Homo sapiens: one gene and its partners. The protein of the gene in region 2 interacts with the protein of the main gene of each other region in a pairwise test. Each region holds a gene or a part of one and is shown on either strand. Other genes may lie near its edges.

The links.
Region 1: the proteins of LAMP2 (region 2) and ZBTB8OS interact in binary tests that used the Homo sapiens proteins (3 or more experiments, as listed by UniProt).
Region 3: the proteins of LAMP2 (region 2) and SERPINA3 interact in binary tests that used the Homo sapiens proteins (3 or more experiments, as listed by UniProt).
Region 4: the proteins of LAMP2 (region 2) and WBP2NL interact in binary tests that used the Homo sapiens proteins (3 or more experiments, as listed by UniProt).
Region 5: the proteins of LAMP2 (region 2) and LOXL4 interact in binary tests that used the Homo sapiens proteins (3 or more experiments, as listed by UniProt).
Region 6: the proteins of LAMP2 (region 2) and JPT1 interact in binary tests that used the Homo sapiens proteins (3 or more experiments, as listed by UniProt).
Region 7: the proteins of LAMP2 (region 2) and FGA interact in binary tests that used the Homo sapiens proteins (3 or more experiments, as listed by UniProt).

Annotation. Positions count from the first base shown.
Region 1 is NC_000001.11:32,640,551-32,644,050, reverse strand, and holds part of ZBTB8OS (protein archease), read left to right. Parts: intron 1-3,500. UniProt on the Homo sapiens protein: Component of the tRNA-splicing ligase complex required to facilitate the enzymatic turnover of catalytic subunit RTCB. Together with DDX1, acts by facilitating the guanylylation of RTCB, a key intermediate step in tRNA ligation.
Region 2 is NC_000023.11:120,462,797-120,466,296, forward strand, and holds part of LAMP2 (lysosome-associated membrane glycoprotein 2 isoform A precursor), read right to left. Parts: intron 1-3,500. UniProt on the Homo sapiens protein: Lysosomal membrane glycoprotein which plays an important role in lysosome biogenesis, lysosomal pH regulation and autophagy.
Region 3 is NC_000014.9:94,611,075-94,615,190, reverse strand, and holds the start of SERPINA3 (alpha-1-antichymotrypsin precursor), read right to left. Parts: upstream 2,801-4,116; 5' UTR 2,744-2,800; exon of another isoform or gene 2,652-2,743; intron 1,845-2,651; exon of another isoform or gene 1,822-1,844; intron 1,156-1,821; exon of another isoform or gene 952-1,155; intron 758-951; 5' UTR 750-757; coding exon 107-749; intron 1-106. UniProt on the Homo sapiens protein: Although its physiological function is unclear, it can inhibit neutrophil cathepsin G and mast cell chymase, both of which can convert angiotensin-1 to the active angiotensin-2.
Region 4 is NC_000022.11:42,019,288-42,022,787, reverse strand, and holds part of WBP2NL (postacrosomal sheath WW domain-binding protein), read right to left. Parts: intron 3,478-3,500; coding exon 3,369-3,477; intron 3,144-3,368; exon of another isoform or gene 3,127-3,143; coding exon 2,985-3,126; intron 2,785-2,984; coding exon 2,692-2,784; intron 540-2,691; coding exon 432-539; intron 1-431. UniProt on the Homo sapiens protein: May play a role in meiotic resumption and pronuclear formation, mediated by a WW domain-signaling pathway during fertilization.
Region 5 is NC_000010.11:98,258,195-98,261,694, forward strand, and holds part of LOXL4 (lysyl oxidase homolog 4 precursor), read right to left. Parts: intron 2,934-3,500; coding exon 2,728-2,933; intron 1,236-2,727; coding exon 1,197-1,235; intron 1,035-1,196; coding exon 815-1,034; intron 1-814. UniProt on the Homo sapiens protein: Catalyzes the oxidative deamination of lysine and hydroxylysine residues in collagen and elastin, resulting in the formation of covalent cross-linkages, and the stabilization of collagen and elastin fibers.
Region 6 is NC_000017.11:75,134,748-75,137,512, forward strand, and holds the end of JPT1 (jupiter microtubule associated homolog 1), read right to left. Parts: exon of another isoform or gene 1,504-2,765; coding exon 1,355-1,503; coding exon of another isoform or gene 1,255-1,354; 3' UTR 501-1,254; downstream 1-500. UniProt on the Homo sapiens protein: Modulates negatively AKT-mediated GSK3B signaling.
Region 7 is NC_000004.12:154,584,775-154,587,742, reverse strand, and holds the end of FGA (fibrinogen alpha chain isoform alpha precursor), read left to right. Parts: intron 1-85; coding exon 86-231; intron 232-824; coding exon 825-2,249; 3' UTR 2,250-2,468; downstream 2,469-2,968. UniProt on the Homo sapiens protein: Cleaved by the protease thrombin to yield monomers which, together with fibrinogen beta (FGB) and fibrinogen gamma (FGG), polymerize to form an insoluble fibrin matrix. Fibrin has a major function in hemostasis as one of the primary components of blood clots.

The DNA of each region.
Region 1 (3,500 bases), on a different chromosome or scaffold from region 2:
AACCAAGGTATAAAAGTTAATCAAGCCCCTTCCTTGGGGCCGAGAGAATTTTGAGCATTAGCCGTCTCTAGGTCGCCGGCTAATAAAAGACTCTTAATTTGTCTCAAAGTGTGGCGTTTTTCTAACTCGCTTGGGTACAACAAGGCCAAGGTGGAAGGATCACTTGAAGCTAGGAGTTTGAGCAACCTGTGCAACCTAGTGAGACCCCCATCTTTTTAATAGAAAAAGAAAAAAAAAAGTAAAAAAAATTAGCTGGGGCCAGGCATGGTGGCTCACGCCTGTAATCCCAGCACTTTGGGAGGCTGAGGCAGGCGGATTACGAGGTCAGGAGTTCAAGACCAGCCTGGCCAACATAGTGAAACCCCCTCTCTACTAAAAATACAAAAAATTAGCCCAGTGTGGTGGTGCACGCCTGTAGTCGTAGCTACTCGGGAGGCTGAGGCAGGAGAATAGCTTGAACCCGGGAGGCAGGGGTTGTGGTGAGCCGAGATCATGCCACTGCACTCCAGCCTGGGCCACAGTCCCAGCTACCTAGAGGCTGAGGCAGGAGGGATCTCTTGAGCCCAGGAGGTCAAGGCTGCTGTGAGCCATGATTGTGCCACTGTACTCCACCTTGGTAGACAGTGAGAACCCATCTCTTTAAAGAAAAAAAAACCAAAAACTAAAACAAAAACTAAAGGCCAAGTGCAGTGGCTAATATCTGTAATCCCAGTACTTTGGGAGGCCAAGGCGGGTGAATCACCTGAGGTCGGGGGTTCGAGACCAGCCTGACAAACATGGAGAAACCCCCGTCTCTACTAAAAATACAAAAAATTAGCCATGCGTGGTGGTGCATCCCTGTAATCCCAGTTACTTGGGAGGCTGAGGCAGGAGAATCGCTTGAACCTGGGAGGCAGAGGTTGCAGTGAGCGGAGATCGTGCCATTGTACTCCAGCCTGGGAAACAAGAGCGAAACTCTATCTCAAAAAAAAAAAAAAAAAGGCCAGGCACGGTGGCTCACGTCTGTAATTCCAGCATTTTGGGAGGCCGAGGCCCGCAGATCACCTGAGGTCAAGGGTTTGAGACCAGCCTGGCCAACATGGTGAAACTCTGTCTCTACTAAAAATACAAAAATTAGCCGTGCGTGGTGGCGCGTGACTGTAATCCCAGCTACTCCGGAGGCTGAGAGCAGGAGAATCCCTTGAATCTGGGAGGCGGAGGTTGCAGTGAGCTAAAATTGGACCATTGCACTCCAGCCTGGACGACAGAGGAAACTCCATTTGAAAAAAAAAAAAAAAAAAAAAGACCTAGAATTGATGGAAAGGGAATGTTCTGGTTAAGATAAAAGATTGTGGAGAACAAAGTTCTTTTGAAGTCCTATAGTGGCTGCCCTTAGAGACAATAGAAGACAAATGTTTCCTATTCAGATGTTAGTTAACATCTTTAGGATTGGGAGGGTCTGGAAGAAAAAGATCTAGCTATGTTAATAGAGATTCTTTACGGATGCAAATTCTCCCCCAGAAAGAACAGCTTTGCCGGGCCATTTCTTTTTTTTTCTTTTTTTTTTTGAGACAGAGTCTCGCTCTGTCACCCAGGCTGGAATGCAGTGGCACCATCTTGGCTCACTGCAACCTCTGTCTCCTGGGTTCAAGCAATTCTCCTACCTCACCCTCCCGAGTAGCTGGGATTACAGGTGCCTGCCACTACGCCCAGCTAATTTTTGCATTTTTAGTAGATACGGGGTTTCACCACGTTGGCCAGGCTGGTCTTGAACTCCTGATCTCAGGTGATTTGCCTGCCTTGGCCTCCCAAAGTGCTGGGATTACAGGTATGAACCACCGCGCCCGGCCCTGGCCATTTCAAAATATGGCAAAGAAACATGCTTTGGGGTAAAATATTTTGATTTTCTTCCTTGTGTTGTATCTTGTAATTTTATGCCAGACTCAGGTTAGAAAGTAAGTCACGATGTATAGGGTTAAATAAAATACTTCTGAAGAGAATTTGTGATTTGTAGGGCATGACTCCCCAAACCCCTTAGATAGGAATTTGGGCAAGATAAAAAAAAATCAGAGTTTAGTTGTCATAATATTCTATGTAACAAAATTGGAAGTATGTACAAAGGTTTTGTTTTGTTTTGTTTTGTTTGAGACAGTCTCGCTCTGTCACCCAGGCTGGAGTGCTGGAGTGCAGTGGCACAATCTCGGCTCACTGCAACCTCCGTCTCCCGGGTTCACGCCATTCTCCCGCCTCAGCCTCCTGAGTAGCTGGGACTACAGGCGCCAGCCACCATGCCCGGCTAATTTTTTTTTTTTTGTATTTTTTAGTAGAGACGGGGTTTCACCATGTTAGCCAGAATGGTCTCGATCTGCTGATCTCGTGATCCGCCCGCCTCGGCCTCCCAAAGTGCTGGGATTACAGGTGTGAGCCACCGTGCCCGGCCTGTATAAAGTACTTTTGTGGCATGTTAAGTGTTGATTACTTGTGGAAAAGAACAATAATTGGCCGGGCGCGGTGGCTCATGCCTGTAATCCCAGCACTTTGGGAGGCCGAGGCGGTGGATCACCTGAGATTGGGAGTTCGAGACCAGCCTGACCAACATGGAGAAACCCCATCTCTACTAAAAATACAAAATTAGCCCGGCGTGGAGGTGCATCCCTGTAATCCCAGCTACTCAGGAGGCTGAGGCAGGAGAATTGTTTGAACCCAGTAGGCAGATGTTTTGGTGAGCTGAGATCGCGCCATTGCACTCCAGCCTGGGCAACAAGAGCAAAATCTGTCTCAAAAAAAAAAAAAAAAAAAAAAAAAACTTGTGTAATTGAGTTGTGAGCTGAACTAGGTCCGTTTTTCATGGAACACTTTTTCTTGAAAGAATGAAAGACATGCTTTTGTTATTCAGACTTCAGTATTTGGCTTGCTCTATTGCCCAGGCTGGAGAGCAGTGGCACGATCTCGGCTTACTGCAACCTCCACCTTCTAGGTTCAAGGGATTCTTCTGCCTCGGCCTCCCGATTAGCTGGGATTACAGGCCCCACCACCATGCCCAGCTAATTTTTTTTTTTTTGTATTTTTAGTAGAGACAGGGTTTCACCGTGTTGGCCAGGCTGGTCTTGAACTCCTGACCTCAGGTGATCGGCCCACCTCGGCCTCCCAAAGTGTTGGGATTACAGGTGTGGGCCTCCACACCCTTGAAAGTGAACAGTGATCTGTCACATCAAGGAAAATAGCTGACAATATTTGTTGATAATGGTAAAATTCAAGTCCAGTTAAAATTTTCAGGCCTGATGAGCTTAATCTCAGCACTTTGGGAGGCCAAGGGGGACAGATGGCTTGAGCCCATAAGTTCGAGACCAGCCTGGGCAACGTGGCAAAACCCTGTCTCTTACAAAACATTAACTAGGTGTGGTGGTGCGTGTCTGTAGTCCTTACCACTTGGGAGACTTGAGGCAGAAGTATCACTTGGACCTTGGAGGTCTAAGCTGTAGTGAGCTGTGATTGTGCCACTGCACTTCAGCCTGGATGAC
Region 2 (3,500 bases):
TCTGGCAGTCCAACTTCCTAGCTGTGAGACTTTGGGCAAGTTACCCTTGTTTAGAATTATAGTGCATATTTCTCCAATAGGTTCTTTGAAAGCATATAAACCCTTCAGAGCTAAAAGAAATTTGCCAAACAAGTTAGATACCAATTTACAAGTCTCCTTTTTAGTAAACACAGCACCTAAAGGGAACCTTCCCAAGTTTTAGCTTTATGTTTACTTTCATCATATTAAATTCTGGACTCTTGTCCTCAAACTCATGAATTTAGAATGATGTTGAGCAAAAGGTCTTTTTAAAATACAGGACACAGAGGCATACGGTACCTATTTATCTTTGTTTTCTATTCAGAGTGATGGTTTTCCTACAAGTTTAAGTCAGATTAACTGTTTCTCCTTTATAATTCCTAATAATAGGTACACTCATTGCATTCAGTTACTTTATACCCTTGCTTTTGGTAAGTTTCTTAAAGGAGAAAAGCAATATGATTTTAAAGTAAGAATGTTGAACACATGAAAAAGAGTATTAAAAGTTAATAAAAATATGTTTTTAAGCTATAAAATGACTTAATTTGTTAAGGCCAAAGAGTGGGTAAGGAAACAAGATTCAACACTACTCAACTAATGGAAAGTGCTTATTGTTGAGCAGTGTTTGGCACACCTCCAGAATTCTTTCACAATGCACAGCAGGATACCAACAAGTACTTATAAAGTATACTTTTGGGTCTGAGGGGATCTCTGATCACTTTAATAAGAAATTATGATCAGAATACTTTTGCACTACAGAAAGAAGAGCAGCCTTCCTGCATCAAGGGTCATTTAAATCAGCTCCAGTGCTACGAAATAATGCTTGGTTATAGACAAAATCTACCCAAAGATATAGGGGAAGAAAGCTGTTCTTTTGGGACATATTTGAGTATCTATAACCCTATCAGATGTGACAATCTGATATTTGGGACATATTTGAATATCTATAACCCTATCAGATATGATAATCAATGACTAACAAACTAATCTGGTATTTGGGACATATTTGAATATCTATAACCCTATCAGATGTGATAATCAATGACTAACAAACTAACAAGCCTGTCCTTTCTTATCTTCTAGCTTGACTTCTGTTTTTCGTTTTTTTTTTGTTTTTTTTTAGGGTTCAGAATTTTTCAGTCCTTTACAGTATCTCTATTATAACTAGAATAATTTGGCAGAACCTCGAAATCAAAGTTATCAGTTAAATGAAATGTGTTAAGCCTATAGAAAAATCTTAGTGCTTGTTTTCTCTCAGAGAAAACCTAACTTTGTGAAAACCTAACTCTCCTCACCAAGGAACTCCTAATTCTCCATATTACCCCCTTCGAGACTACGGAGGTATATCTGAAGGAGTACAGGTAAGAAACTAGCATTATTATATGGGATTATACATTAGTAAATTACTGTATAATTATCCGTACTGCTTAGCACTGATCTTGAAGTTTTCAATCCAAAAGAACTTCTTGCAAAACATCATTTAAAATTCATGGAAGAAAAAGGAGACTAAATGAGTCTAGTTTACCACCATATCCCTAGTGCCCACCAATGAATATCTTCAACAAAAATTCACTACGGGTTAACCATGTACCAGACCCTATGCTAGGTAGGCAATGGGAAGTAACAGTACATAAGATCGTCTCTGCTCTTAGAGACTGCTACCATAGGAGAGACTTGACTAAAACTAGGGGGAAACAAAAAAGCGTGGAAAATAGGCTAGTAACCTAAGATTTTGCAAATGATAAGATTTATTCCTATTTCCCCAGATGGTCACATGGCTGGCCTCCTGCCAACACCCAGGTCTCTGCCCAAATGTCACCCGATAACGGAAGGCCCTCTGACCACATAATATAAAGAAGGATCATCCACCATCACCCATTCCTATCATCTACTCATTCTCCTTTCTCATTACCTGTGTAATTTTCTTCATAGTGTTTTTGTTTTGTTTTGTTTTGAGACAGAGTTTTGCTCTTGTCCCCCAGGCTGGAGGACAGTGGCATGATCTCGGCTCACTGCAACTTCCACCTCCTGGATTCAAGCAATTCTCCTGCCTCAGCCTCCCGAGTAGCTGGGACTACAGGTGCTGGCCACCATGCCCTTGTATTTTTAGTAGAGATGGGGTTTCACCATGTTGGCTAGGCTGGTCTCGAACTCCTGACCTCAGGTGATTTGCCCACCTTGACCTCCCAAAGTGCTGGGATTACAGGCGTGAGCCACCATGCCCGGCCTCTTCATAGTGTTTATCACTATCTGACATTATATTATTTATCTGTTGAGCTTTCTTCTCCCATTAAAATGTAAGCTCCATGAGAGCAGGAACCTCATCTGTCTTATCCATTCCTCTGTCCCTTTCACCTAATATAGTGGCTGGGACACAATAGGCATTCAGTAAACGTGTGGAAGGGAGAGGCTCCTACCAGTAACATACACTAAGAATATTTCTGTGAGGTTTTTCCCACCCAGAAAAGCCTCAAACCTAAAAAAAAAAAATTCTGAACCCTAAAAAAACAAACAAACAAACCAAAAAACAGAAGTCAAGCTAGTTATAAGAATCAATAACCACAGAAGAATCCTGAAATCTATGATATCACAAAAGGACCATAATTAGGCAATTATATAAAGAAAGGATTTTCACCCACTATCCACTTTATAACACCTCTAAATCATATAGCTTCTCTTCGGAAAGTTGTCTGGTCAGTTACAATTCATCCAAATAAACACCAGCATAATTTAATCTCTATGAAAAAGACCAATATATAGCCTCTAAGAATCCTTTTCTGTACTTATTCTAAAGCTGCTGTTTTTAAAAGGTTATGGGTGAAGCTGGGATAGAGTTATAAAGTTACAAAGTCAAACTGGCACAGCTAGAGCACTAATGCTAATAAGACTATAAATTTAGGACAGGTCCTCCTTCATTGGCACTCCGTACAGTACCCAGGCACAGTTCTAGCTACATAGTAGGTACTTTACAAATATTTATTGATTTAGCTACATATTAGGTACTTTACAAATATTTATTAAGTTTTCAAAAACCTATTATTGGTATCCATTTTGATATAGAAAAGTAACTTGTGCAAAACCCACCAAGCAACTGCTAAATTCTTGACAGAAAAAGCTATATGGGAGGACTTTGGGCTCCACACTGAACCAAGAGCCATCAGAAAATGCAGCTGTATAGAAAAATGGTTTCTATTTCATCCTGGAACCTCTTAAAAATCAGATCTAGGTACATTATTAATATTTACTTTTCCAAATCCTGCTCTGAACTTGGAGGCGGAGGGAATCAATCTTGGAAATTTTCCAAGAGGAAGAATCTAGTTAGTCCTGATCAATAAATGGCAAACTAGCAGATGAGCTGATGGGTTCTTTTATGTGCTTCTTTTTGCATGTTTATTTTCTGCAGTGAGTAAGCATTGCTTTTGTAAAAACAAAACAAAAAAGCTTTCATTAAAAAACAAAAAAAAATTTAATGACATGAAAGC
Region 3 (4,116 bases), on a different chromosome or scaffold from region 2:
TGGGCACTCTCCTCTACAGTGGTTTGCCTAATAACACCATTGTTGAGTCAGGACAGAAATGGCCCTGAGATCCACCTCTTCTGAACCCCAAGCCAGGCACACTCACCTTTAAAGAAGATGTAATTCACCAGGACCATCATTGTCTGCGAGTCAAGGTCCTTGATCAGATCTGTGATTTTCCCCCTAGTTCCATTCTTCACGTAGTCGTTGATGAGCTTCTTAGCTGCAGCTGAGTCCTGAAAGTCAGTGGCAAAGGCCTCGGAGCCATACAGCCTCTTGGCATCCTCCGTGAACCTGTCCAGCAGACTGAGTTGCTCTTTGACAAACATGGCATTTCCCATACTCAGCTGCAGCTCATCGCTGGACTGATTGAGGGTGCGCAGGAGGTGCTGGAAGCTCTGGTGAATTTCTGCCTCAGAAGTCTCCGTGAGGTTGAACTTGAGGCCTTTGAGAATCTCTGTCAGGGTGGTATTATGGGCCCCCAGAGACAGGAAGGCCAAGGCGGTGGAGATGCTCAGTGGGGAGAAGATGACATTCTTATCAGGGGCCTTCAGGACTAACTGCTTGTACAGGCTGAAAGCGAAGTCCACGTTGGCGGAGGCTAATCCGAGGTCCACGTGTGTCCCTCGGTCTTGGTTCTCCTGGGTCAGATTCTCCTCGTCAAGTGGGCTGTTAGGGTGGCAGAGGACAGCAGGGCAGAACCCAGCCGCCAAGAGCCCCAGAGCCAGGAGAGGTAACATTCTCTCCATTCTCAACTCTGAAAAGCAAAGCTCCTTTAAGTCTCAGAGGGCCAGATGGAGCCCCGACCACCTCCCACTGCCCTCCACCCAGCCTGCGTCCTGGTCCCTGTCCTGCTGCCTCTTGCTAGCTTTGGAGCCTCCCTCAGGTAGGTGCTCTCTGGGGCACCCGACACACATCACTCTGCTTCATTTCACCCTTTGAGGTAGGTACCATAATTGTTGCCATTTTCTTGCAGTGGAAAAGCCGGGCACAGAGCGGTGAGGGGGCTTGCCCAAGATCATACAGCAAACAGGTAAAGGAGCCCAGTGGGCAGCCAGGTTTGCCTGGCTCCTCGGTCTGTAAGCTGATGGGGGGTCCGAGGTTCAGTCCAATCAGAATGCCTGCTCCTCTCCTGCTTGGTGAGCAGATCTCATCCTAGGGGATTAGAAAGCAGGGGCTCCCTTCCTTCATTCTCCCAACTGCCACCAAAGTAGAACCCAGGGATGAAGGAGCCCTGGGCAGAGATAGAGGCCACAGTGACTCTCCCAGCCTCTAGATGTCACGTGGTGTGGCCTCCACAGGCCTCCACGATGTGATGCTGGGTGGCAGTGAGGGTCGACTGAGAGAGGGAAATGAAAGTCCCTGGTACAGTGTCTGGAGCCTCGATGGCCCTGATAATGGTTGGCAGCAAGACCAAAGAAAGGCAAATGTTCTTCTCTGCCCCTGCCAGGTTGCCACGTGGTGTCTGTGTCCACCATAAGCCTGGAAGGGCCTCTTAGTGGGGAGAAGGCAGAGAGGGCTTTGGAGTCTCCCAGACTTGGACTGGGATTTTATTTTGGCCACTTTTGATTGCTGTGTACTGGCAAGCAGGTGACTGTACATCTCTCAACCTGTTTCCGTCTCTGCACAACCTGTTAAGTGGCTCAGGTGAGATAAATGATGAAGGCACCTGGTTCATATTAGACGTACCGAGCAGTCACCACCTCCCATACTACCCCTTTCCTGAAACTACAAGCCAGAGAAGAGCCATGAGCTACTGCACAAGAGACCCTGGAAGGGCTGAGTTCCAAGCCGGTGACCGCAGCAAACAAGATTATTCACCTTCAGCCTCCGCCCACTCAGTCCTAGAATTCAGAAGAGAAAAGGGGCAGCTTGGGTGCTGGGGAGAAGAGTGGGGAAGAGAGGCGATTGGAAGGGAGGGGAGGGGAGAGGGGTAGAGAGAGGAGAAGAAAAGGGGAAGAGAGAGTGGAAGGAAGGGAAGGAAGGAAAGGAAGGGAAGGAGGGGAAGGAGGGGAAGGAGGGGAAGGAGGGGAGGCCAGTGGAAATGCCTTTGGCCAAGCCCAGGGACAGAGGCACCTTGTTTGCTTCAACTGTTCACTCTCAGGCTGATGCAATCATTTCTCTGGATAAATGTTAGACAATATTTTTCTCCAGAATTATTTCAGGGGCAAAGGCTTGTCTTTTCTGTTTGGGCAAGTTGGAGGGCTGGCTGTTTCCCAGCAGTTTGTCTTTTCTGTTGCTGGACAGAGACACAGCCCATCTGTCGACTTGGCCAGGGGTCCTTTTGGGGAAGTGGAGCTCCCGAGGCAGCCCCATGGAGACCCTGAAATCATGGTGAGGCCTGTGGCCTCTGCTCAGAGGGACCTGCTGCAATAATCACATCTGCCACATGTTCTGAGAGCTGCACCCTGCTCCAGGCAAGGGGACAGCACCTCTTCCCTGAGGGTCAGATGCACAGCTGACTCAAATCCGAATCTGTAAGTATCAAGGCAGAAATGACCATAGAGGCCCCAGGGCACCTCCACCCTTTGCAGGTGTGAAAACCCAGACACAGAGGATGCCTCTAAAAAAGGCACAGGGAATCAGTGGCAGCCAAGAACAGACCCCTGGCCCCTAACACCTGAGTACACCTCCTCCTGGCCTCTGCTTACCCCTCACACTCCACACACTCCAGGCTGCTGCCTAAAACTCTCCTGGAAAAACAGATTCCTCCGCTCCCAGGATGTAAAACATCATGGATTACCTGCCTCAGGGAGCTGGATGTAGCTGGTGGATTCCAAAGCCGTCTGTCTGGAGTAGTGGATTTTCATGAATGCTGAGGCTTATTTATTCCTGCAGAGAACTCCTCCCCCTGCTTGGGAAATGCCAGGACAACCAAGTGTTCTGTTCTCGGACTGGAAATGACCAGATGATAATTTCTGGTAATACGGGCTTGTTAGACCTACTCAAATAACCTGGTTATGGGACTAGCTCTAATCTCTTCCTCCAAAGGTCAAAAAAGCACACAGAAAAAATCCTTTGTTGTATTAGTTTTTATCTGCTTATTAAATACTCATTGAAGAACATGGAAAAACTCAGAGAATGTAAAGAAGGACTTTGGAAAATATCCCCCAGCACTTTACTACCCAGAGAAGACCCCAGCTAACATTTTGGTATATTTCTTTTTTATTTCTTTTTATTTTTTATTTTTATTTTGAGACAGAGTCTTGCTTTGTTGCCCAGGCTGGAGTGCAGTGGCGTGATCTCAGCTCACTGCAACCTCTGACTCCCGGGTTCAAGCAACTTTCTGCCTCAGCCTCCCGAGTAGCTGGGACTACAGGCACACACCACCACGCCCAGCTAATTTTTGTATTTTTCGTAGAGACAGGGTTTCACCTTGTTGGTCGGACTGGTCTTGAACTCCTGACCTCGTGATCTGCCCACCTCAGCCTCCCAAAGTGCTGGGATTACAGGCATGAGCCACCGCACCCAGCCACATTTTGGTGTATTTCTAAAGCACTTTTCTTTGGTGTCTCTGTGTGTGTGTGTGTGTGTGGCTGCATGTGTGTCTGTGTGTCTGTGTGATGTGAATGTCCATATACAAACCTAGATATATTTTTAAAATACAGGACTCTATTTTTCTGTGGATCAGTTTGCATTTTTGGCACCCCTTCACCAACCCCAGAGAGTAGGGCACCTAGAGAGGGGTGTGGAGGGGAGCTTTCGGGGAGCACAGGTGTTGTGAGGAACCCCTTGTCCTCAGGCTCTGTTTCTCTGTGGGGGCCTCCTCAGCCTTGGCCTCTGTCCTGCTGAGCCTCTGCGATTGGTTCACCCCAACAAGTGGTTGTCCCTCCTCCCCGGCCTTCAGGTATCCTTGGGCCTCTCTCTTAGCTAGTCTGGGGTCTTTCTTTGGCTCATGAAAAAGGAAAAAAAAAATCCTGGGCGGGACTAGTGGCTCATGCTGGTAATCCCAGCATCTTGGGAGGCTGACGTGGGCAGACCACCTGAGGTCAGGAGTCCATGACCAGCTTGGCCAACATGGCGAAACCCCATCTTTACTAAAAATACAAAAAAAAAAAAAACAAACAAACTAGCAGGGCATCATGGCGCATGCCTGTAACCCAGCTACTTGGGAGG
Region 4 (3,500 bases), on a different chromosome or scaffold from region 2:
CCCCATTCAGTAGCAGTGGACTTTAACAACACAAACTGTTAAAGGACCCAGGGCTCGAGTCCTCAGTAAGGTTGAAGGGTGTGGCACAGGTATGATGACTATGCTATGTGAAATGGAAACAAGGAAGTGGGCAAGAGCATATATTTTCTGCTCAGGCTATAAACAGGAAGTGACCCTTCCCACTAACAGGATTGCCAAGTATGTTCCAGGTTTGTATATATCATTAAAAGTAAGCCTGAAACCAAAGCCCAGTCACTTGCTGACTTTGCCACTGGGTTTCAGTCTGGAAACAAAGTCACAGATGTGACCATTTTCCAAGCCCCTAAAGCTCTGCTGCTGCTCCTGCAGGGAGCAAGCCTGCAAGGGATAGATCTTTGAGCCTCTGGCATAATTTTCCACCTTCCAGGAAGAACCTCTCTGCCATACCTTACCTGAACAAGGCATCTGTGGAGTGCACATATTCCCTTCCCCAGTAATTACATAAATTCCCATAGAGCTGAACCAGTCATTTAAGGTTCTAAGTGGAAATCCTCGGGCAGCTGGAAAGACAAATTTGGCAAAATAGGAACTCTTTTAATTAAGTCAGATATATAGCAGATATCAACTAAACAATTAACAGAGTATTTAATCACCACCTTACATGTGTTTCCAACAATGCTCTTGAGACACAAGATAAAAAAGAAACATGGGCTGGGTGAAGTGGCTCACACCTGTAATCCCAACATTTTAGGAGGCCAAGATGGGAGGATTGCTTGACCCCAGGAGTTCAAGACCAGCCTGGGCAACATGGCAAGACCCTATCTCTACAAAAAATTTTTTAAAAATTAGCCAGGCATGGTGGTGCATGCCTGTGGTCCTAGCTACTCAGGAAGCTGAGGCAGGAGGATTGCTTGAGCCTGGAAATTTGAGGCTGCAGTGAGCCTTATCTGTGCCACTGCACTGGAGCCTCCAGCCTGGGTGACAGAGTAAGACCTTGTCTCAAAAAAAAAAAAAAAAAAGAAAGAAAGAAAAGAAATATGACCCTTGTCCTGAATGGCACGTGTCTTAAGGGCAGAGATTGTATCTCATTTGCCTGTGCTTATTCCAGGCCTAGCATAGCACCTAATCATAACAGATATTCAGAAAAAACTTCTAAGTGAGGATTCTACCAAGTTGGTAAGATATATCCATTAAAGACCAATGTGAGGAAGTGTGGTACCGAAGAAAACACTTTTGTCTTGTCTCCCCTCTGCATCTCTCTTATAAGAACACTTGTGATGGCATTTAGAGGCCACCTAAATAATCTAGGGTAATCTTGTCATCTCAAGATCCTTAAATTAATTACGTCTACAAACACCCTTTTTACAAATAACGTAACAGTCACAGATTCTGAGGATTGGGATGGGGATATATCTGGGGATCCATTATCAGCCTACCACACTGAGTTTTGCCTATGGCATGTGACCAGATGTAATGTAGACAGTTTCCAGGCCTGGCCCATAAAAATTTCCCAGGGGAGATCTTTATTTCCTTCTCTGCTGGCTGTACAAAGAGGCCATGGAAGCCATGGGTTAAAGATCGCAAGGACCGGCCAGGCGTGCTGGCTCACGCCTGTGATCCCAGCACTTTGGGAGGCTGAGGCAGGTGGATCTCCTGAGGTCAGGAGTTCGAGACCAGCCTGACCAACATGGTGAAACCCCGTCTCTACTAAAAATACAAAAATTAGCTGGGCTTGGTGGTGGACACTTGTAATCCCAGCTACTTGGGAGGCTGAGGGAGGAGAATCACTTGAACCCGGGAGGTGGAGGTTGCAGTGAGCCAAGATTGCATGATTGCACTCCAGCCTGGGTGACAAAGCAAGACACTGTCTCAAAAAAAAAAAAAAAAAAAAAAAAAAAAATATATATATATATATATATATATATATATATATATATATACACACACACACACACATATATGAGATAAAAAAATTATTTGTAGTCACAGTTTGAAAGAGTTCTGTGGTACATCCATTAGATCAGTGCTATAAGTCTTGACAGTACCTCTACTCCCCTCTCATGTAAGATGGGGACTAAACCTGAGAAAAGCAAAGGCAAGTCCAGAGAGAAGAAAAACTAAAAAGCCACACCAAAGAAAGAATAACTAAGGGCTCCCTGACCCAAGGAAGAGACGCTCAGTAGATATCTGAGGTCAGTGTTTAAATGGACAAAAGACTATCAGGTATAATTAGTCACCTGGGTGTCTGGCTGTAAGCTCCCACTAGATTGCAAGCTCCTTCAGGATAGGAAGGGACTGAATAATCTTTGTGTTCCTACCCTGTAACATGGTACTTGACAATTGTAGGTAGGCCCAGGAAATGCCTGCTGAATATGTGTGCGAATACCAACTGCCTGGCCACAAAGGCCAGCAAATCTTGGCTGAGTAGAAGTCCTGCTTTAATTCCACAAGCCTTAAAACCCCAAAGTGGGCTGGGCATGGTGGCTCATACCTGTAACCCCAGCACTTCGGGAGGCTGAGGCAAGAGGATCATTTGAGTTCAGGAGTTCGAGACCAGCCTGGGCAACATGGTGAAACCCCGACTTACAAAAATACAAAAATCCCTGTCTCAAAAACAACAAAACAACAACAACAGCAACAACAACAACAAAAAACCCAAACAAACAAACAAAAAACCCCAAAGTGCTTAATATCTTTATCAGCATCACTTACCAGCAGAGGCAGCTTTCACCATCAACTGGGCAAATTCAATGGCATCTCCATTTCTGAAGACTAATTTAAAAGTAGCTTGTCCTTCCCAGCCACCTGGGGGAAGAAATGGCACACACTCACCAAGAAACTGGCATAGCTGACAACAGAAAGACTGCCACAAACACCAAGGGAAGCACTACCTGACAAAGTAGGGCAGCTTTTGTTTGAATTTCAACATGAGCCAAGTTTGAATCTTAAACCTTTTAGAAGATTTTGAGGGAAAAAAAAATACACACTTCTGAGGGAACACTTACCATATGGAGCTGCCTGAATAGTTCCCTTAATGAAGTTTGCAGCAAATACTGGTTGTTCAACAGTGAGGTTCGTCATCAGATCAAATGGCATCATAAAAGACAACATGGGATCACTGATGGAGCATGAAGTTATGAAAATCACCTACGCAAGGACAGAAACTTTGGAAAAGGAATGCAGAATTTGTCCATGGATTGAGACTTACAAGAGCAAGGTGCATTCTGGTCTAACTGAGAAACATCATCTTTTCTTCCACCACCCTTCAGTGTGGAAAATCCCAAAGCGCACGTTTAAAAACACTTCAAAAGTCAATGTTTAAGTTTTCTTCATTTCAAGGAAAACAAATGTAGAGTTAATCAGCAGATTAAAGTAGAAGTAGAAATTACCCGGTATGAAGTGAGAAACAATGTTCCTGTCTTTCTACCACTAAAGACATTTGAGCCTTCTGATCGCTGTGGGAAGGAGAGCTCCACATTCGGAGACCGCTTCAAGAGACTGTAGAAAATGAGGAACAGACG
Region 5 (3,500 bases), on a different chromosome or scaffold from region 2:
TGAGGAGGAGGCACCAGCAGGGGCTGAGCCCCCACAGCGGGATCCCCAACGGGGCTCCTTCAAGTTCCATGGCGGTGGCCAGAGCCAAGGATGGGGAGTTCCAGTCCTGCTTCTGACTTCCCATAGCTGTCACCCTGAATAAGCTGTTTTTCTTGATCTCCATTTCTTCAATGACCAATCACCCCCACAGCCTCATCAAGGATGCCGTCTCAAGTGTGGCGCTAAGGCATCTGTACCACCTCACAAGGCCATCTCAGTGTGGCACTAAGGTGTCTGTACCACCTCACGAGGCTATCTCAGTGTGGCACTAAGGTATCTGTACCACCTCACGAGGCCATCTCAGTGTGGCACTAAGGTGTCTGTACCACCTCACGAGGCCATCTCAGTGTGGCGCTGAGGCATCTGTACCACCTCACGGCATCTGTACCACCTCATGAGGGCATCTCAGTTTGGCACTGAGGCGTCTCTACCACCTCATAAGCACTTGCTCATCTCCTCTTTAAAACAAAGGAGCAGGCTCAGGAGCAGGCTCAGGATCAGTACCAGCCCTCAGTGGAATGTAGTTAGGATTTAATTACTGTTTTTACGGTCACCTTCTATTCAAGGCGGGTGATGTCAGCTTTCCATTTATGGTAGGGCTATAAATGATCCCTTTTAAATACATTCCAAGGTTCTACAGTTCTGTGATTCACTCTCCTCCTCCCAGTCTGGTTCCTCTCTCCTGCGTGTCCTGGACCTCCCCGCACCCCCCACCAGGCAGTGTCCCGCCCGTGCCTCCAAGCTGTGGTGTGAGTGCAGGATGCCCAGGGCTCACCTCTGCCCAGGACCCTTTGCGTTGTGGCTTTGTCTTCGGTGGGCGGAAGTGAGGCCCTGCCACACAGCTGACCACAGCGTGCATGCCACCTGGGCAGGCTGGCCGCAGCTTGCCCCGGGCTGGAGCCACCTGCACCTGGCAGTTGGCCATGTGGGGCTCTGTCCCCAGGCAGGTGACCTGGTGGATCCAGAAGGAGTTCTTATTCGTCAGGCTCTTCAGCCTAGAGGACAAGGGAGACTGAGGGTGGAGGAAGGGCTGAGGGAAGAGCTTCAGGACTAAGGGAGGCCAAGGTAGAAAGGAGGGAAGGGGAGGGTAGGGGATGGGATAGAGGCCCTTCATGCCACACCCCTTTGCCTCCTCCCTCTAGGGTGCTGCTCCTCACCTAGACTTAGGGTCCCTCATCTTCAGATCCCAGACTTTCCTGTTATGGGAGAAAACAGATAGGAGGTGGAAGGGGTGTGGAAGTCCCACCCCCTGCCACCTGGTTCCTCATAGTTGTCCTTAAGTTTGCACAGGACTTTACATTTTGTAAACTTATTCACTAATCTGATTTCAATGCTGAGCTTCACAGCAGCCCTGACGGGGTGGCCACCTCACAAATAACCATTTTACAAGGAAGGCAAGCAAGGTCCCTCGGCCAGTCCTAGAGTGGGGGCAGGTGGATCAGGCTTGCCCTCTCCGAAGTCCAGAGGAAGGGGAGCATTTAGGGAGGGCCCAAGAGAAGGGGCCCTCTGGGGACAGGTGGGAGGTGAAGGCCTTGCTGGTGGGGGCGGCCCGCCCAGAGACACCCAGGCTACCATCAGGCCTGCCCTCCTCATGGGTGGCAGGCAAGTCAGCGAGACCCAGGTGTGCAATTACCAGGCAGGGGGAGTCAGGCTGCATCCCAGGATCCCCAAGGATGGAGCCAGAGGCTGACCAGCACCCCTGTTTCCTCAGAACGGGGTTCCTCTAAGTCACTGCAACAAGGGCCTTCTAACCCTTTAGGGAAGCAGGATCAAACTGATTGGGGTGGCAGATGACTCAGACGTACTACGGGAGACTTCTCACTTGATGGGAAACACACAAGTCCTCCCTGACACGGATCTGGCAGAACCATGACTGTGGCTGTCGTTTACTGGTTGATGCAATCAGTTGTGACAGTTCCGCCTTGTTTCTGACAGAATATTTTTATGTCTCCTCTCTCCAGGTGCCCCACCCCACGCCTCACTTACACACAACCCAGTCACAGCCTGGCTTGATCAGAGCTGAGGAAATTCAGGAGGGAAGCGTTGGGATATTCGCAGTGGAATTGAGGATGGAGGCTCAGAGGCCCTCCCCAAAGCCCTAACGCCAGTCACTGGCTGAGCTGAGGCCAGAACAGTTTGTCTAAACTCTACACGTGGGTGTCACTGCAAGTATCTGCAGGAAAGTCTAGTGTTTTAACCAAGGACACGCGGTTTTATGTTCAACTGTTTTCACCGGGGGCGGGGGGTGGGGGGGCGTTCTGTACCTAGTTAATTCTGTTTACATAATTCGAGAGTGCAGTGTTTGTTTTCTGACTGTTTCTAGGTATTTCCCAGGATCCTGAAGGTCCTCCTTATTCACTTTCCTGTTTATTATTCTGAGGCACCCGTGAAGCAAGAAATCTGGGCACATTCCTCAGTAGGGCCTGTTTTCTCTCCCCCAATCCCAACACCTGCTGGATGTCCTGCCACAGACAACACCACTGCCAGTCAGTACTCACTGAACTCTGCGAGGTCCCACATGCCACACACATCACACACTCGCCTGTGTGCATACTTACTTGCCCCTCACATGAGTCCACACTCAGACTCATGCACACACCCTACATCACATGCACGCACATGAACACACACTCAGTCCCTGCCCCACAACCCTGCCTCCTGTGGGGCCTACGCCAGCCGCCCTCCTACCTGTAGTAGTGGCTGTCGACAGGCACCTCGCTGGGGAAGCCCAGCATCCCGCACACCACCCTGCTGTTGTTCATGGTCCAGCCCTGGTCACACACCTGCCGCCAGTGGCCCTCATACTTCACCTCCACGGCTCCCTCGGTCACTGGGCTATGCTGCTTGGCACTGGCAAGGATGGGCTTGAGCCGCACCTCCTCCAGCCGCCGGCCCTGCGGGGTGCACAGTCACCTGTGGGCCTCGGGGCTCCTGCTCCTCCAGTGGAGCCTGCTGCAGATCTTCATGCAGAAAGGCTGGGGCTTGGAGCTTTTCGAGACCATCCCACCCAGCCCGGTCATTGAACAGGCCAGGAAACTGAGGCCCAGAGAAGGGGAGGCATTATCAAAGGCCACAGAGTAAGTGCAAGGCAGAACCTCAGCTTGTCTAAGCCCTTTCCCTCAGTTCCTCGAATTTGTCAAATTGGAGAGAACTAGGCAGATCTGGCCCCCGCTGGGATCAGGATGGGAGCCCTTGGAGTTTGGGAGGCTTTTGCTGGGCATGGAAGGGCCTTCTCTGTACCACCCTGAGAGAGCTGAGATGGGCATAGACCAGCTGCTTGAGACCACAGCAGGATCCTATGGCCCACAAGAACCCCCAACCCTAGCCCTGGGATGACTTAGACCAGTACAGAGTCCCCATCACAACACGCTGCATTCAGTGGCCATGGCCAGCTGTCCTGAGGCTGGAGGCTGCCTGGCAGCAGAGCCCTGCCCTGCCCGCTCCTGTTGTTTGGCTTGGGC
Region 6 (2,765 bases), on a different chromosome or scaffold from region 2:
TGGAGTACAGTGGTGCGATCATGGCTCACTGCAGCCTTGATCTCACAGGGTGAAGCAATCCTCCTGCCTCAGCCTCCCGACTACAGGCGTGTGCCATCACACCTGGCTATTTTTGGTAGAGACGAGGTTTCACCATGTTGCCCAGTCTTGGAGAACACTTTAAAATGTTACTGCCCAGAACAAAGGGGAGGTAGAAGAGTCTAACCTGCTCATCTTTAGAGCCTTCTTCAGAAAGAAACCCACTCCTCTCTGGGTCTTCATCTGTTTTAAGATTTTGTTTTTTAAGGAGGTCTCGCTATGTTGCCCAGGATAGTCTCAAACTCCTGGGCTCAAGCATCCTCTTGCCTTGGCTTCCCAAGTAGCTAATTACAGGCACATCTGGCTATTTAACTTCAAATGACTCCTCCAATCAGTAGGCAGGATTTATAGTGACAAAGAGAAAAGCATCTAACCAGGGAGAACACTGAAACCATCTCAAAAAGAAGACACAGTACACAGTGTTTCAAAATGTGGATATTGTTTACTTGAAGCAACAGTCCAGGATTGTGAAGTACAACACATTTTAAGGATGAGACTTTCCTTTCATGGTCAAGCACCAGCATCATGCACACAGCATCAGGTTATTTAAAACAACACGCCTGTGGGACCCCGTTCCTGGAGGAAGACCCGCTTCAGTGTGATTGCCTCCCTTGCTTCACTGCTTTTAGTTCCAGGCAGTTTCATTGTACATCCAAGCCTTCCTCTGCGTGAGAGCAAAGGCTTTGCTCATCAGCCAGCCAGTCTTGTTACTATCTGGCTACTTTTTAAGGTTAAAAAATAAAAGGCAGTTTCTTTGCTTTGCAGGCGGCAAGGCAGGAGGCGCAGGCCTCTTCATTGTTCACATGTCACAGGAGGAGGCTCTGAGCAAAGGCCACTGGCAAGTTAGGGCAACACCAAGAAGGCTCTGCGGAGAGACTCCCTGTGGGTTGGGGCCTGGCAGGAACGGTGCCTGTGGACTGTTTATGGTCTGTCCAGTTGAGGCTTGGTAAACCCAAGTAAAGTGTTAAAAACCTCAGTACAAAAGATCCTCTAACACATCTGGAACCAAATTATTTCTTCTTAAAAACACAGTACTAAGTGTCACAAAGCTTTCCCTCCAATCTACTACTAGAAAACACTCATGCCATGGCCCACAGACCCAAGAGTCAAGGACAGAGAGAAACCTGTTCTTCAAAAGAAAAAAAAAAAAGACAGCAGTACATAAAGTGCTTCTTTTTAATGAAACAAATCCAAGAGATGTACAGTCAGGCTCAAGTTGTGCAGTTCACAAGCATGGAGGAAACAGACAGAACGACAGCGTTCAGGACAGTCAGAGCTAACCCAAGACGAGGCTGGACTTGCCGCCAGGGGGATTTCTTCTGGATGGCACTGGGGCCGGGGCCACCGGGCTGGGCACAGGCGCAGCAGGCACGGGCTTCTCTTCACTCTGCCCCAGGCTGCCTGGCAAGTCTGTGTCCACATTTTCTATGAAAACAGGGAATAGAAATAATACTCATAATGACAGCCATTTCCTGTTAAGATCAAGGATCTGTTTCTCTTTTTCTTTTTTTTTTGGTTTGATGGTTGGAAACATACCTAAAAGCATAAACAAAATAATCACCCACCATGCTCCCACTCCACAGAATTAACCATTGTTCATCTTTTCCCATATTTGTTGTTTATGTTCTTTTCTAAATTACACAAATATATAAGGACATGAAGTTTTTTTTTGTTTTGTTTTGTTTTTTGACGGAGTCTCGCTGTTGCCCAGGCTGGAGTGCAATGGTGCAGTCTTGGCTCACTGCAACCTCCACTTCCCAGGTTCAAGCAATTCTCCTGCCTCAGCCTCTCTAGTAGCTGGGATTACAGGCGCCTGCCGCCATGCCCGGCTAATTCTTGTATTTTTAGTACAGATGGGGTTTCACCATCCTGGCCAAGCTGGTCTTGAATTCATGACCTTGTGATCCACCTGCCTCGGCCTCCCAAAGTGCTGGGATTACAGGCGTGAGCCACCGCGCCTGGCCCAAGGACATGAAGATTTTTAAATAAGAACAGGGAACTCTAGCTCTACGGCCCCTTCCAGCTCCGGGTGGATCCTGCTCCCCCTATTCCCAGAGGTCCCACTGCAAGTCCTGTGCAGCCTTCTAGTCCACTTGTTTTATGTATATTTACATGTAGCCAGATAACATGTAACATGTTTTGGTTATATTTAACATAAATGGTATCAACTTCTTTTTTTCACTCTTGGAAATGTATCCATATTTACAAACAGGGTAGTAATTCGCCTTGCTTATTAACTGTATGTTTTCAAATCCCTCACCTCACTGTCAAGCTTCATTGCTTTATAGTAATTATCACATGATATAGGCTATTTATCCAATTCTCTGACAGCAAAAAAACTGGAACCCATCCAATTTTCCAAATGAATTGTCTCTCATTAGGGTTGTTTCTAAACCGGGAAAAAACTGATTCAAAGTGCAAAGTGAATGCAAAAATTCTATATTTTCTATGAAAGGAAACTTTTACTAAGAGCTTAATAGTATACATATTTTTAGTTTTTTTGTTTGTTTGTTTTTTGTGGAGGGGTGGGGTGGCAGGTGGAGGATATTGAGACAGGGTCTCACTCTGTGGCCCAGGCTGGAGTGCAGTACCTCAATCACAGCCCACTGTAGCCTCAAACTCCTGGGCTCAAGCAATCCTCCTATATCAGTCTCCCAAATAGCTGGGACTACAGGCGCGCACCACCA
Region 7 (2,968 bases), on a different chromosome or scaffold from region 2:
TCCTTCCTTTCTTCCTTTCTTTTTTGCTGGCAATTACAGACAAATCACTCAGCAGCTACTTCAATAACCATATTTTCGATTTCAGACCGTGATAATACCTACAACCGAGTGTCAGAGGATCTGAGAAGCAGAATTGAAGTCCTGAAGCGCAAAGTCATAGAAAAAGTACAGCATATCCAGCTTCTGCAGAAAAATGTTAGAGCTCAGTTGGTTGATATGAAACGACTGGAGGTAAGTATGTGGCTGTGGTCCCAGATGTCCTTGTTTCTGAGTAGAGGGAAAAGGAAGGCGATAGTTATGCACTGAGTGTCTACTATATGCAGAGAAAAGTGTTATATCCATCATCTACCTAAAAGTAGGTATTATTTTCCTCACTCCACAGTTGAAGAAAAAAAATTCAGAGATATTAAGTAAATTTTCCAACGGTACATAGATAGTAAATTTCAAAAGCAAATGTTCAGTCCCTGTCTAATTCCAAAGCCCATTACATCACCACACCTCTGAGCCCTCAGCCTGAGTTTCACCAAGGATCATTTAATTAGCGTTTCCTTTGAGAGGGAATAGCACCTTACTCTTGATCCATTCTGAGGCTAAGATGAATTAAACAGCATCCATTGCTTATCCTGGCTAGCCCTGCAATACCCAACATCTCTTCCACTGAGGGTGCTCGATAGGCAGAAAACAGAGAATATTAAGTGGTAGGTCTCCGAGTCAAAAAAAATGAAACCAGTTTCCAGAAGGAAAATTAACTACCAGGAACTCAATAGACGTAGTTTATGTATTTGTATCTACATTTTCTCTTTATTTTTCTCCCCTCTCTCTAGGTGGACATTGATATTAAGATCCGATCTTGTCGAGGGTCATGCAGTAGGGCTTTAGCTCGTGAAGTAGATCTGAAGGACTATGAAGATCAGCAGAAGCAACTTGAACAGGTCATTGCCAAAGACTTACTTCCCTCTAGAGATAGGCAACACTTACCACTGATAAAAATGAAACCAGTTCCAGACTTGGTTCCCGGAAATTTTAAGAGCCAGCTTCAGAAGGTACCCCCAGAGTGGAAGGCATTAACAGACATGCCGCAGATGAGAATGGAGTTAGAGAGACCTGGTGGAAATGAGATTACTCGAGGAGGCTCCACCTCTTATGGAACCGGATCAGAGACGGAAAGCCCCAGGAACCCTAGCAGTGCTGGAAGCTGGAACTCTGGGAGCTCTGGACCTGGAAGTACTGGAAACCGAAACCCTGGGAGCTCTGGGACTGGAGGGACTGCAACCTGGAAACCTGGGAGCTCTGGACCTGGAAGTACTGGAAGCTGGAACTCTGGGAGCTCTGGAACTGGAAGTACTGGAAACCAAAACCCTGGGAGCCCTAGACCTGGTAGTACCGGAACCTGGAATCCTGGCAGCTCTGAACGCGGAAGTGCTGGGCACTGGACCTCTGAGAGCTCTGTATCTGGTAGTACTGGACAATGGCACTCTGAATCTGGAAGTTTTAGGCCAGATAGCCCAGGCTCTGGGAACGCGAGGCCTAACAACCCAGACTGGGGCACATTTGAAGAGGTGTCAGGAAATGTAAGTCCAGGGACAAGGAGAGAGTACCACACAGAAAAACTGGTCACTTCTAAAGGAGATAAAGAGCTCAGGACTGGTAAAGAGAAGGTCACCTCTGGTAGCACAACCACCACGCGTCGTTCATGCTCTAAAACCGTTACTAAGACTGTTATTGGTCCTGATGGTCACAAAGAAGTTACCAAAGAAGTGGTGACCTCCGAAGATGGTTCTGACTGTCCCGAGGCAATGGATTTAGGCACATTGTCTGGCATAGGTACTCTGGATGGGTTCCGCCATAGGCACCCTGATGAAGCTGCCTTCTTCGACACTGCCTCAACTGGAAAAACATTCCCAGGTTTCTTCTCACCTATGTTAGGAGAGTTTGTCAGTGAGACTGAGTCTAGGGGCTCAGAATCTGGCATCTTCACAAATACAAAGGAATCCAGTTCTCATCACCCTGGGATAGCTGAATTCCCTTCCCGTGGTAAATCTTCAAGTTACAGCAAACAATTTACTAGTAGCACGAGTTACAACAGAGGAGACTCCACATTTGAAAGCAAGAGCTATAAAATGGCAGATGAGGCCGGAAGTGAAGCCGATCATGAAGGAACACATAGCACCAAGAGAGGCCATGCTAAATCTCGCCCTGTCAGAGGTATCCACACTTCTCCTTTGGGGAAGCCTTCCCTGTCCCCCTAGACTAAGTTAAATATTTCTGCACAGTGTTCCCATGGCCCCTTGCATTTCCTTCTTAACTCTCTGTTACACGTCATTGAAACTACACTTTTTTGGTCTGTTTTTGTGCTAGACTGTAAGTTCCTTGGGGGCAGGGCCTTTGTCTGTCTCATCTCTGTATTCCCAAATGCCTAACAGTACAGAGCCATGACTCAATAAATACATGTTAAATGGATGAATGAATTCCTCTGAAACTCTATTTGAGCTTATTTAGTCAAATTCTTTCACTATTCAAAGTGTGTGCTATTAGAATTGTCACCCAACTGATTAATCACATTTTTAGTATGTGTCTCAGTTGACATTTAGGTCAGGCTAAATACAAGTTGTGTTAGTATTAAGTGATGCTTAGCTACCTGTACTGGTTACTTGCTATTAGTTTGTGCAAGTAAAATTCCAAATACATTTGAGGAAAATCCCCTTTGCAATTTGTAGGTATAAATAACCGCTTATTTGCATAAGTTCTATCCCACTGTAAGTGCATCCTTTCCCTATGGAGGGAAGGAAAGGAGGAAGAAAGAAAGGAAGGGAAAGAAACAGTATTTGCCTTATTTAATCTGAGCCGTGCCTATCTTTGTAAAGTTAAATGAGAATAACTTCTTCCAACCAGCTTAATTTTTTTTTTAGACTGTGATGATGTCCTCCAAACACATCCTTCAGGTACCCAAAGTGGCATTTTCAATATC